Linked DNA regions of Homo sapiens. The protein of the gene in region 3 purifies or fractionates together with the protein of the main gene of each other region. This does not show direct contact. Each region holds a gene or a part of one and is shown on either strand. Other genes may lie near its edges.

Region 1 (3,655 bases), on a different chromosome or scaffold from region 3:
TTACTGTTTCTTTCTCTTCCACTCAAGAAATCATATTAGAACACAGGTGAGTGAACGAGATACTATCATAAGAATAATCTTGCATTTGTTCAAATATATAATTTTTATAGTTTTATAGTTTTCCTCCATTATGTGCACTCCATTTTAGTGTAAAAATATGTAATTACATATAAAAAATATAAATTAAAAGCAGATATACACACATACGCTTTTAATATTTCAGCAAATGCAGCTTCTTAGTTGTAACATGAATTTTTAGCTTCATTTTGAACTAGTCAGATTTTGTTTTCAAATTTACTGCTCCCCTTTTAGTCTCTGGACTTATGTGGATTCCTATCTTTTATATGATCTGATATCTGATTTCTGGGATTGTAGGATCAAAATTTCCTCTAAATCTTCTATTCAGTTCACTAAAATTGGAAAGTGATGGTCATTTCTGTGTCAAATCTCAAATATGTACTAACCACAAGGACACTCACACTGTTGGCTTTCTTGTAATGTGATATCAAGGACAGAGCAGCAGCTTACTAAATGTTCAGTAATGTAATATATTTGGTATGTGAGTGTTTACATGCATTTATATGCTAGAGTTAAGAAAGCAAGGAGCTGGGTTATGTAGTAAGTATAATTGACAGAAACAGATAAGATTACATTTTTCAAAATCCATACCATTTCATTCTTCAGCAAAGCTAGTCCAATTTGGTCTGTGTGAACTTTCCTTCCCTTCCCAAATCTCTGTGGTCCATAGTAATTCACAAAGCCTTTTTTCTATGTATACAAAATAATCAACAAATTAAGAGTATATAAATACAATTATGTGTCAAAATACACAATTGAATTTTTCTCTTCATAATTATTTTAACAGAATAACTCTGTAATCAGCAGTATACACATAGGGACCAAATGGTCTGAAAAATGCTGTAAATTAAAGAAAAGGAAAGAAAACACAGAATTAGAAGTTAGAACATAAAACCAATGAAGAAAACTTTAAAAATACGTCAGCTTTCCATTCATGTTACTGAGGGATTTCCTGGGATGTGAGATTTTCAGTGTTAAAGCCAGAAAAGTTCTGGGCTTCCAAAATGAGTTGATCACCTAGTACCAAGATCTGATCCCTACTCTGATGCTCTTTCTTATTTTGAGACTCTTCGGCTGTCTGGAGATGTCGGGAGTCAAGAACAGGCTCACTTTCAAACCCCACATATCCTGGCTCTTTTCTACATAACGTTCGTTCTTTAGTTCATCTCAGTTTCTTAAAGGCTGACCTGAGACAATGGAGCCACTTCAGCAGTACTCTACCGGTCCAGCTATTCCAGCACCTGGAACAGTCTGTATTCCAGGGGAAGAATACAGACTTCACTTCCTGCTGGAGGTGAACCATACAGGCCATGTTTTAAAACTGTCACATTACTCAGAAGAAATGGAAAACTGTAACATACTACCGCAACCATTAAAGAAATTGGTCAGTCATTAAACATGTGCTCACAAAGAAAACACCAGGCCCAGACAGTTTCTTGAAAGACAAGAGTCCTCCACACTTACTTTATGAGGAGAGTATGCATTTATTCAGTCAACAATTATTATTGAATACCAACTCAAGAACTTTTTAATAAAAGATGCGGAGCCAATTTGTTATCAGCATGGTACAAAAGCAATTGCATCTTTATCTCATGTCATTTAAAAAATTAATTGCAGGCCAGGCTCAGTGGCTCACACCTGTAATCCCAGCACTTTGGGAGGCCAAGGCCGGCGGATCACGAGCTCAGGAGATGGAGACCATCCTGGCTAACATGGTGAAACCCTGTCTCTACTAAAAATACAAAAAATTAGCTGGGCGTGGTGGCGGGCACCTGTAGTCCCAGCTACTCAGGAGGCTGGGGCAGGAGAATGGCGTGAACCCGGGAGGGGGTGCTTGCAGTGAGCCGAGATCGTGCCACTGCACTCCAGCCTGGGTGACAGAGCGAGACTCCGTCTCAAAAAAAAAAAAATTAATTACAGATAGAATAAGTACTCCCTGAATTAAATCTCATAAATATTTTTAGTTATTTCAAATTTGAAAAAATAACATAAGATGACGTCCTAGAGTAACCAGAAGAGTTTTAAATTAACCCTTCAAAGTACTTAGATATAACAAAAGGTTTATAACAGAGATATAACCCCTTGAAACAAAACTTCAAAGACTCCTTATTTTCAGGGTTTCTCAATTCCTTTCTCACATCATAAGAACTAATGGAAGTTGGCTAAAACTAAGATTGTTTCTAATGGGAATTTTGTAATAGGCAGCTGTATGTTCATAAATAACAAATGAAAGACAGGGAATAAATGCTACCAGAGTTCAAAGAAACTTCTACCTTTTTAAAGTATATCATTTTAGTAACAGTTTTTGAGGAAAAAAAAGTAGAATTTTAGGTGGGTCAAGGAAAACGAAGGTAAAACAACATATGATATGGTTTGGCTGTGTCCTCACCAAATTTCATCTTGAATTGTAATCCCCACAATTCCCACATGTCATGGGAAGGACCCGGTGGGAAGTAATTGAATTATGGGGTCGGTTTTACCCCATGCTGTTCTCATGAGAGTGAGTTCTCACGATAGTGAGTTCTCACGAGATCTGATGGTTTTACAAGTGTCTGGCATTTCCCCTGCTGGCATTCATTCTCTCTCCTGTCACCCTGTGAAGAGGTGCCTTCTGCCATGATTGTAAGTTTCCTGAGGCCTCCCCACCTATACGGAACTGTGAGTTAATTAAAGCACTTTTCTTCATAAATTGCCCAGTCTCGGGTATTTCTTCATAGCAGCATGAGAATGGACTAACAAAACATATAAAGAGTATATAATCAGATAACTTCCATATACAGATGAAAGTGCTGGATTTAAAAGATCTTTAGTTGGAAGATATTTTCCTAACTACAAGGCAGATTAATAACCAGTTTTTGTTTGTTTTCCTGTTGGACAGGTATAAAATTGTGTAAAAAGGTCTTTGTGGTGAGAAACTTGAATCAGTGTTTCTCGGTATTGGCTCTAAAGTACAGTCACCTAAGAAGTTTTTCAAAAATAAGTACTAATGCCTAACCTGCATCCCCAAATGTTCTTTTTTAATTGGTTCAGGAGTAGATATCAATGGGTGAAATTTTTTGAAAGCTCCTCAGGTTGAGAACTACTCATCTAGATCAGGGGTTAGCAAACTACTATAGCCCACAAATGAAACCTGGTCCAACACCTGTTTTTGTAAATAAAGTTTTATTGGAACACAGCCATGTTCATTCACTTATATATTGTCTGTGGCTGCTTCCATACAATGGCAGTAGATTAGTTGCAAGAGGAACCATATGTCTAAAAGGTCAAAAATTTTATTATCTGGCCCTTTACAGTATAAAGTTTGCTGATGTCTAGATGATCTAAGATGGTCTAGTCTTGAAAACTATAGTTGTATGTGCACATTTAAATGTCGGGAAAATGTCATTTAGAAACTTATGCTAAGTAATTTTTTACTGTAAAACATAAAGTTTATGATATGTTTGGCTGTGTCCCCACCCAAATCTCATCTTGAATTGTAGTTTCCATAATCCCCACTTGTCATGGGAGAGACCCAGTGGGATTGAATCATAGAGGTTGTTACTCCCATGCTATTCTCATGATAGCGAGTGAGTTCTCA
Region 2 (3,755 bases), on a different chromosome or scaffold from region 3:
TCTGCCCACACTGACCCCGGCCCTCCTCACCAATCTCCAGCTGCACGTGCACTGAAGCCAGTTCCCACCCTCACTCCAGCCGGGTTTCCTGGCTCCCTTCCCATCGCCCACCCTCCCACCTCACCACTCTCTTTTCCTGCCCATTGCCTAAATGCCCCACCATCCGGCCCCGCAGGACTATGGAAGAACAACACAGCCCACCCGCTTATGTGGGCTCCAAGGAAATGGCCTCTGGGGAAGAATTCTCCTTTTGTAAAAATGGGACCTTTATTTTTGTTTTGATTATAAAGTGAACATGGTCATGGCTGAAAATCTGTCAAGCACAGAAAAGTATAAAGTAAAGGTCGCTCAAAATTCCACTGCCCAGCCAGCTGATACTGACATCTAGGAGGTGTCCCACTTTGGCTCTTATTGATCCCTGGTGTGCAGACAGGGGTCCCCAGGTAGACAGAACCCCTGACCAAGGACAACAGGAGGCATTTGCTCTTCCAGGGTAAGCATCTGTTTTATTCAGATCTGGGTGGCTCAGGGCCTCCAGGCAGCCAGTTTTGCAGGAGATTCAGCACCTAGTGTCTTCCTGCCTCACGCTCCCAAGAACCTGCTCCTGCAGGGGGAACATCAGAACTCATCCTTGATGTCAAAATGGGGCTGGTCTTCAGGCTTGAAGTCCAGGTTAGGGCTGCCATCCTCATTGAGAATTCTCCGGGCAGTGTAGCCGACGATGGGGTATTTGGCTTTGTACACTTTGGTGAAGACCTCATCCAGGGCCTCCAGTTCCTTGGCCGTGAGACCCGTCTTGGGGAGAAAAGCCCAAGAAAGACAGGAGATGGGGTTAAGTGGATAGTGTTTGGCACTGGCCTTTCTCCATCCCTGCCTTGCCTCCCACATCCCTAATGCAAGAGAAAAGATATCTCAACAAACCAAATAATGGACAAATGGCTTAAGAGACACTGCTGTGGGGGGGGCGTGGGGGTGGGAGGGTATAACATACGGGGAGCAATGCTTCATCACACTTTGTGGTTTGACTGATGGAAGGGATGAAAGACTCCAGAGAGCATGCTGGGGTGGGGCAGGGCATGCCCTATTGCATCTGCATCCCCTTCCTCCCCCCGATTAATCCTCCCTCTCTCTACACTGCTCCCATTATCCCTCTCTCTACACTCCTCCCATTATACATTTGGCACCTTCCCCTTTCTTAAGTTCTTCATTCATTTTTGTAATATTGTTACATTCATTTTGTTATGAGTTTGGCTCATCTCAATTTATCTCAATGTCAGTTTGATGTTGAGCACAGTTAGAGGAAATTCCAGCCTTACTGTTGGAATTATTTAGACCTTGAATAGGTTTAAAAAACAAATTTTTTTTTTTTTGAGATGGAGTCTCACTCTGTTGCCCAGGCTGGAGCACAGTGGCATGATCTCAACTCACTGTAACCTCCGCCCCCTGGATTCGAGCGATTCTCCTGCCTCAACCTCCCAAGTAGCTGGGATTACAGGTGTGCACCACCACACTCAGCTAATTTTTGTATTTTTAGTAGAGACGGGGTTTCTCCATGCTGGCCTGGCTAGTCTCAAACTCCTGACCTCAGGTGATCCACCTGCCTTTGCCTTCCAAAGTGCTGGGATTACAGGCATGATCCACCACTCCTGGCCTAAAAAATGTTTTAATGCTATCTTCTCCTTCACAGAAATATAAGCATAGAGGGAGACCTTTCTTCCCAACCCAGTTCATCCACAAAGCTACCAAGCATGGCCTGGGGAATGGGTCTCAGAGACTAATAGCAAGGCTGTAAGGGGCTGAGGGGATGGGGTGGCAGGTACAGACCATAAGGAGCATTAGGTTGCCAAAGCAGGTTGGGGCCAAATTGTGATGATCACTGAGTTGGATCACAAGTTCATAAGAGTTTGGACTTGACTCTAGGCAACAGACAGCCATGGAAGGTTTCTGAGTCGAGATGACATGGTAGGATAATCTATTTCAAGAAAATGCCTGGCCACCATACCAAGTGGACCGAAGGGTAAATAAGCTAATTAGGAAGGCTTGCTCTTGCCCAGATACACACACACACACACACACACACACACACACACACACACACACACACACGAAAAGAAAAAGAAAAAGAGAAAAAGGCATGGACAAGGAGGTAGAGGATTTTACAAAGGCTTATAATCTGGCTCACAGTGTCATGGGTGAGGTCTGCAGGATCCAAGGACATCTTGGCTACCCCTCTAGTGGAGTCCTTCCCCGTCAAGGCATTGTAGGGGGCTCCTCGTCCATAAAACTCTGTAGTGGGAAGGAAGGAAGAGACGTAAGCGTGGGTTTACATGCAGAGTAACCAGGAGCTTGCACGTGGGGGCGCTCCCAAGGCCCGCACCCAATCCTAAAAAAGACTCCACGCTCACGGAGAGGCCAAACAATGGCGATACAAAGTCCAGTAAGCCACCCCAGCCATCAGGTTGGATTCCACTTACTCTAAATGTGAAGTAAGTCACACATGCAGGCTGAGCAGGGATTTTCAGAAAATATAAAATGAGAATAGTACCCCTACAACCTCTTTTGTTGTTGTTTTTTTTTGACAGGGTCTCACTCTTGCCCAGGCTGGAGTGCAGTGGCACAATCTTGGCTCACTGCAATCTCCACCTCCCGGGTTCAAGCAATTCTCCCACCTCAGCCTCCAGAGTAGCTGGGACTACAGGCATGTGCCACCACCATGCCCAGCTAATTTTTGTATTTTTTTTTTTGAAGAGATGGGGTTTCACCATGTTGCCCAGGCTAGTCTTGAACTCCTGAGCTCACATGATCTGCCCACCTTGGCCTCCTAAAGCGCTGGGATTACAAGCATAAGCCACTGTGCCTAGCCCCCTTCTCGTTCTGTTTTTTCACCTAAGTGTTAATACTGAGAAAATAGTCTCTTAAAAATATTAGAGATGCAGGCTGGGTGCGGTGACTCACGCCTGTAATCCCAGCACTCTGAGAAGCCAAGATGGGCAGATCATTTGAGGTCAGGAGTTCAAGATCAGCCTGGTTAACATGGTGAAACCCCATCTCTACTAAAAATACAAAAATCTGGGCATGGTGGCGTGCACCTGTAATTCCAGTTACTCAGGAGGCTGAGGCAGGAGAATCGTTTGAACCTGGCAGCTGGAGAAGGTCGCATCACTGCACTCTAACCTGGGCGACAGAGCGAGACTGTCTCCAAAAAAAAAATTAAAGATGCAAACAAGAAAAATGTTCCCTCTTCTTAAATGTTGGTGGAAGCCAAATCTATTCCCATTCAGCAGTGTTTGTTATCAAATAATAGATAAACCAATACAAAACTATCTCCAAGATATCATTAGTAGTTACATTAAATGGCACTAAAATGTTCTGTAATGTTCTATAATGCCAACTCTTTACTAAAGAACACTTCTCTCATTGCTTCAACTAGGGTAAATCATTAAGTTTGAATTTAATTCTACAGGCAATGGAAAGTCATGAAAGGCTTTTGAGTAGAAGCATGTCATTATCAGGGGAAAAAAGCCCCTGCTGAAGTAAAACACTGACAAAGATTAACTCAATCTGCTCATTTAAAATGGAAGGAAGGCCAGGTGTGGTGGCTCACACCTGTAATACTAGCACTTTGGGAGGCCGAAGCGGGTGGATCACAAGGTCAGAAGTTCAAGACCAGCCTTGCCAAGATGGTGAAACCCCGTCTCTACTAAAAATACAAAAAAATTAGCCAGCGGTGGTGGTGGTGCCTGTAATCCCAGCTA
Region 3 (3,655 bases):
CTATATTACCTTTAATTCATTAAACAATTATAGTCCTCTCTGAGAAAGTGACATTTAAGCAAAGGCACGAAACTAGTGTAATAGGCAAGAATGAGCAGGCAGCAGTGAGTGGTAGGATGGAGTGAGAAGAGAATAAGTAGTAGGAAATAAAGTGCAGGAACTAAACAGGGTGAGATCCATGGAGTGATGGGGAGCCACTGGAGGGTTTTGAGCAGAGGAATCCTATGATCTATTTTATGTCTTCTTTTTTTGTTTGTTTGTTTTTTGAGACAGAGTCTCGCTCTGTCGCCCAGGCTGGAGTGCAGCGGCGCAATCTCGGCTTACGGCAAGCTCCGCCTCCCAGGTTCACGCCATTCTCCTGCCTCAGCCTCCCGAGTAGCTGGGACCACAGGCGCCCGCCACCATGCCTGGCTAATTTTTTGTATTTTTAGTAGAGACGGGGTTTCACCGTGTTAGCCAGGATGGTCTCGATTTCCTGACCTCGTGATCCACCCGCCTTGGCCTCCCAAAGTGCTGGCATTACAGTCGTGAGTCACCGCGCCTGTCCTATTTTATGTCTTAAAAGGATCACATTGGCTGCTGTGTTGAAAATGGATTTTAAAAGGGTGAGGGTGGAAGCAGGGAAGGAAATTAGGATGTTGACATGAGAGAGAATGGTGGCTCAAACGAGGTTGTTAGCAGTGGTGTTAGTGAGGAATGATCACATTCTGCATTGTGGTAGATTGGATGTGGAATGCGAAGAAAAGGAAAGGATGATTTCATTTCACATTTTTTAATCCTCTTAAGAACTTTGAAAGGAACTATTTTTGCCCCTATTTATGAACTAGGAAACTAAGCACAAGGACTTAGATTTTACTTGACTTCAAAAGCCATGCAGCTAGAGTACAAAATGAGGTTTTAAATTCAGATGTGTCTTCACTCCAAAACCTATATTTTTTCTACTTTACCAATAATGGAAAATATCTAGTACAGTGCCTGCAGCATTGTACTTTTTTTCTTACTATTTTCTTTTTATTCAAATTCTTAAAAAAAAATTCAAAGTTAGTAGATAAGAATAGTTCACATAACTGTAGCTATTGTTAATTTAATAAATATGTGGCTATTTTATTAGGATAAATTATTGGCCCACTTTACATATGCTTCAAAATTTTGATACCCATGAAAGTTTTAAAAATGAGAGTATACTGGCATTTGTAAATTCTTTTACATAGATTTCTAAACTAAGAGTCTTACTAAAATTAATATTTCTAGTGTGCCTGGAAATTTCATTTTTATCAGTTTATGCATAACCCATGGAAATTAAATATGTTTATGTTGTATATATAAACATTATGCAAAATATGTTTTTAAAAGCATTTTCAATGCTAAAATCCTTGAACGAAGCATTATGTTTCAAATCAAAGTAATTGCTGTGGATCCAAGTATAAAACATTAAGAGATCATCTGACTTTCTTTTTCTTTTTCTTTTGTAGGTGTAAAAGGCTTAATCTCCAGCCTTTAGCTTATCTTTGGCAGAGAAACCAGGAAGATTTGCTCAGAGAGATGATATCATCTAACATTCAAGCAATGATCATCAAAGTAGCAGCTTTGGGTATGCAGCCAAACTATCAAGGGAGCTGTTTGTTGCCACATAGATGATCTCAGTTCACTAATAAGTAGTTAAAATGAACAAAGAAAACTGATTTAGAATATAAAAATGTGGAGTCACAGCTGAAGAAATTGAGTAAGCACCTTCCTTGCATAAAGAAAAGGAAGTTTTAAAGTGGTCTTTTGACCATTTGCCGAAGTGATTACTAGTAAGGCTTTTTTTTTTTTTTTTAACATATAACAGGTTCTAAAACTGATATTGTATTATAGTCCTTCATTTTAAGTTCTTTTTTTTTTAGGGTTTGGAATTTAGGCTTGTAGGAAACAGGAAATACAAGGGTTATTTTTGTTTTGTTTTGAGGTTTTTTGGAAGCTTTTTATAATATGTATTTGACACAAAACATTTTCCTTGTATTTTTTAGCATATTTTGAATAATGCTAAAATAGAATGATGGTTTTGTTTTTGTTATAAAAAATAAATAGGGTACTGGTTTTTGTTGGGGATGGTGAGAAAATCATGTTTGAGAAAAAGTTATCTGATTAGTTAGCATAGACACAGCAGGCAGGTGGTAATCTGATTCAAGTATGGACATTACATATGAGCACATTTAATTTATTTGGAATTTCTATAATTATATTCATTTTTGAGAAACCGTAGGGTTTGAGCCCAGTCTGTTCATTTCGTGAACCTGTTATAGAAAATGCCCTGAAACCTGAGAGTTCCCAAAGCCTAAATCATGTACCTCATTTGAAAGTGTTTACCTTGCAGATCTCTGAAATAACAAGGTCTCAAGCTGTAGAAGATTTTACAGATACATTCAGTTTTTAAATAAAATTAAGAGAAATAGTACAGACCCCATAATATTTCTCCATGGTAAATACCAAGCTACTGTATTCTTGCTGAAGTTGAGGTGTTGTCTTCAGTTGAAGCCTTTATTTAGTGAATCTGTAGTTGATCTCCTTAGCTGTTAAAACAAGAAAGATTGAGTGATATTATGTTTTTATTTCTGAGAAAAGGTTGCTGAGCAGCTCTCATGATTAACGTTATTATATTTGTCATATGAATTTCTATGTGACTCTGTACAGAGTATTCCCTCTTGCTTTTTCTTTGTCTCTCACTCTCTCTTTGAATTTTCTAAGATTACATAATTCCATAATGAAGTTCACGTGACGTCTCACTGAAAGGTACACATACTATTCCTTTTACTGCCCGATAGATAAAAGACTGGATTAGGACCCAGAGAGACCTCCCTTATTGAAAAGATAGTCAAAGAATTTGACCTTATTGCCATCTTTTAATAGTATATAACCGATATTGTGTGTTCTTTCATTTCTATCTGTGCCTCTCTGTAGGGATTAGAGATGGGGAATTAGCTTTATCAAGCCTTTGGGTAAAATGTAAAAACTGAGCTGATTTGTCTTTGGCATCTCAGTAACAAAAATATAGATCTGATTTTAACATTTACAGCACTGCCTGTGTGCTGACTGCCTATAGGTGTGCAAAGATGAAAGTTATTCTTTAGAATAATATTAAAGAAAGGTTTATTAAATGGCACAGTACTTCTGAAGACATAGAAACATATAAATGATGCAATATAGGTTGCTAAGCCTTTTTCCTCCCATTTAAAATTATCAGAACAATTTTAAATGGATTTAAGCCAAAAAAAAGGGACTTTTTTTGGATTTAAGCAAAAAAAAAAAAAATGAGACAATAAGACCTTTCTGTGGGGGAGAGGGATCAGTAAAATTTTGTGGACCATTTTTCTATGAAATGGTCTTATAATAGAAAAAGGTCAGTTCTACATGAATGCATACAAATATATTTTTTATAATTATGGTATGTAACCTTTATGTCTTATAGGCATCAATGAACTCATAAAATTTCTGGCTTCTTTGTTTCATTATAATGTTTTAAGGGACTCATCCATATTATTGACTGAAGCAATAGTGTGTTTATTTTTATTGTAGTATAGTGTTCCCTTGTGGGAGACTGTAATTTAATTAAATTTAATTAACACCACAATTTAATTGTCCATTCTATTATTGATGACATATAGGTAGTATCCAG

Evidence for each region.
Region 1: the proteins of DPH6 (region 3) and PUS7L fractionate together in Homo sapiens (co-fractionation; one large-scale study listed by BioGRID). This does not show direct contact.
Region 2: the proteins of DPH6 (region 3) and NENF fractionate together in Homo sapiens (co-fractionation; one large-scale study listed by BioGRID). This does not show direct contact.

What each region holds. Positions count from the first base shown.
Region 1 is NC_000012.12:43,741,788-43,745,442, forward strand, and holds part of PUS7L (pseudouridylate synthase PUS7L), read right to left. Parts: intron 769-3,655; coding exon 670-768; intron 1-669. UniProt on the Homo sapiens protein: Pseudouridine synthase that catalyzes pseudouridylation of mRNAs.
Region 2 is NC_000001.11:212,442,870-212,446,624, reverse strand, and holds the end of NENF (neudesin precursor), read right to left. Parts: intron 2,287-3,755; coding exon 2,183-2,286; intron 796-2,182; coding exon 619-795; 3' UTR 246-618; downstream 1-245. UniProt on the Homo sapiens protein: Acts as a neurotrophic factor in postnatal mature neurons enhancing neuronal survival. Promotes cell proliferation and neurogenesis in undifferentiated neural progenitor cells at the embryonic stage and inhibits differentiation of astrocytes.
Region 3 is NC_000015.10:35,448,621-35,452,275, reverse strand, and holds part of DPH6 (diphthine--ammonia ligase), read left to right. Parts: intron 1-1,472; coding exon 1,473-1,591; intron 1,592-3,655. UniProt on the Homo sapiens protein: Amidase that may catalyze the last step of diphthamide biosynthesis using ammonium and ATP. Diphthamide biosynthesis consists in the conversion of an L-histidine residue in the translation elongation factor (EEF2) to diphthamide.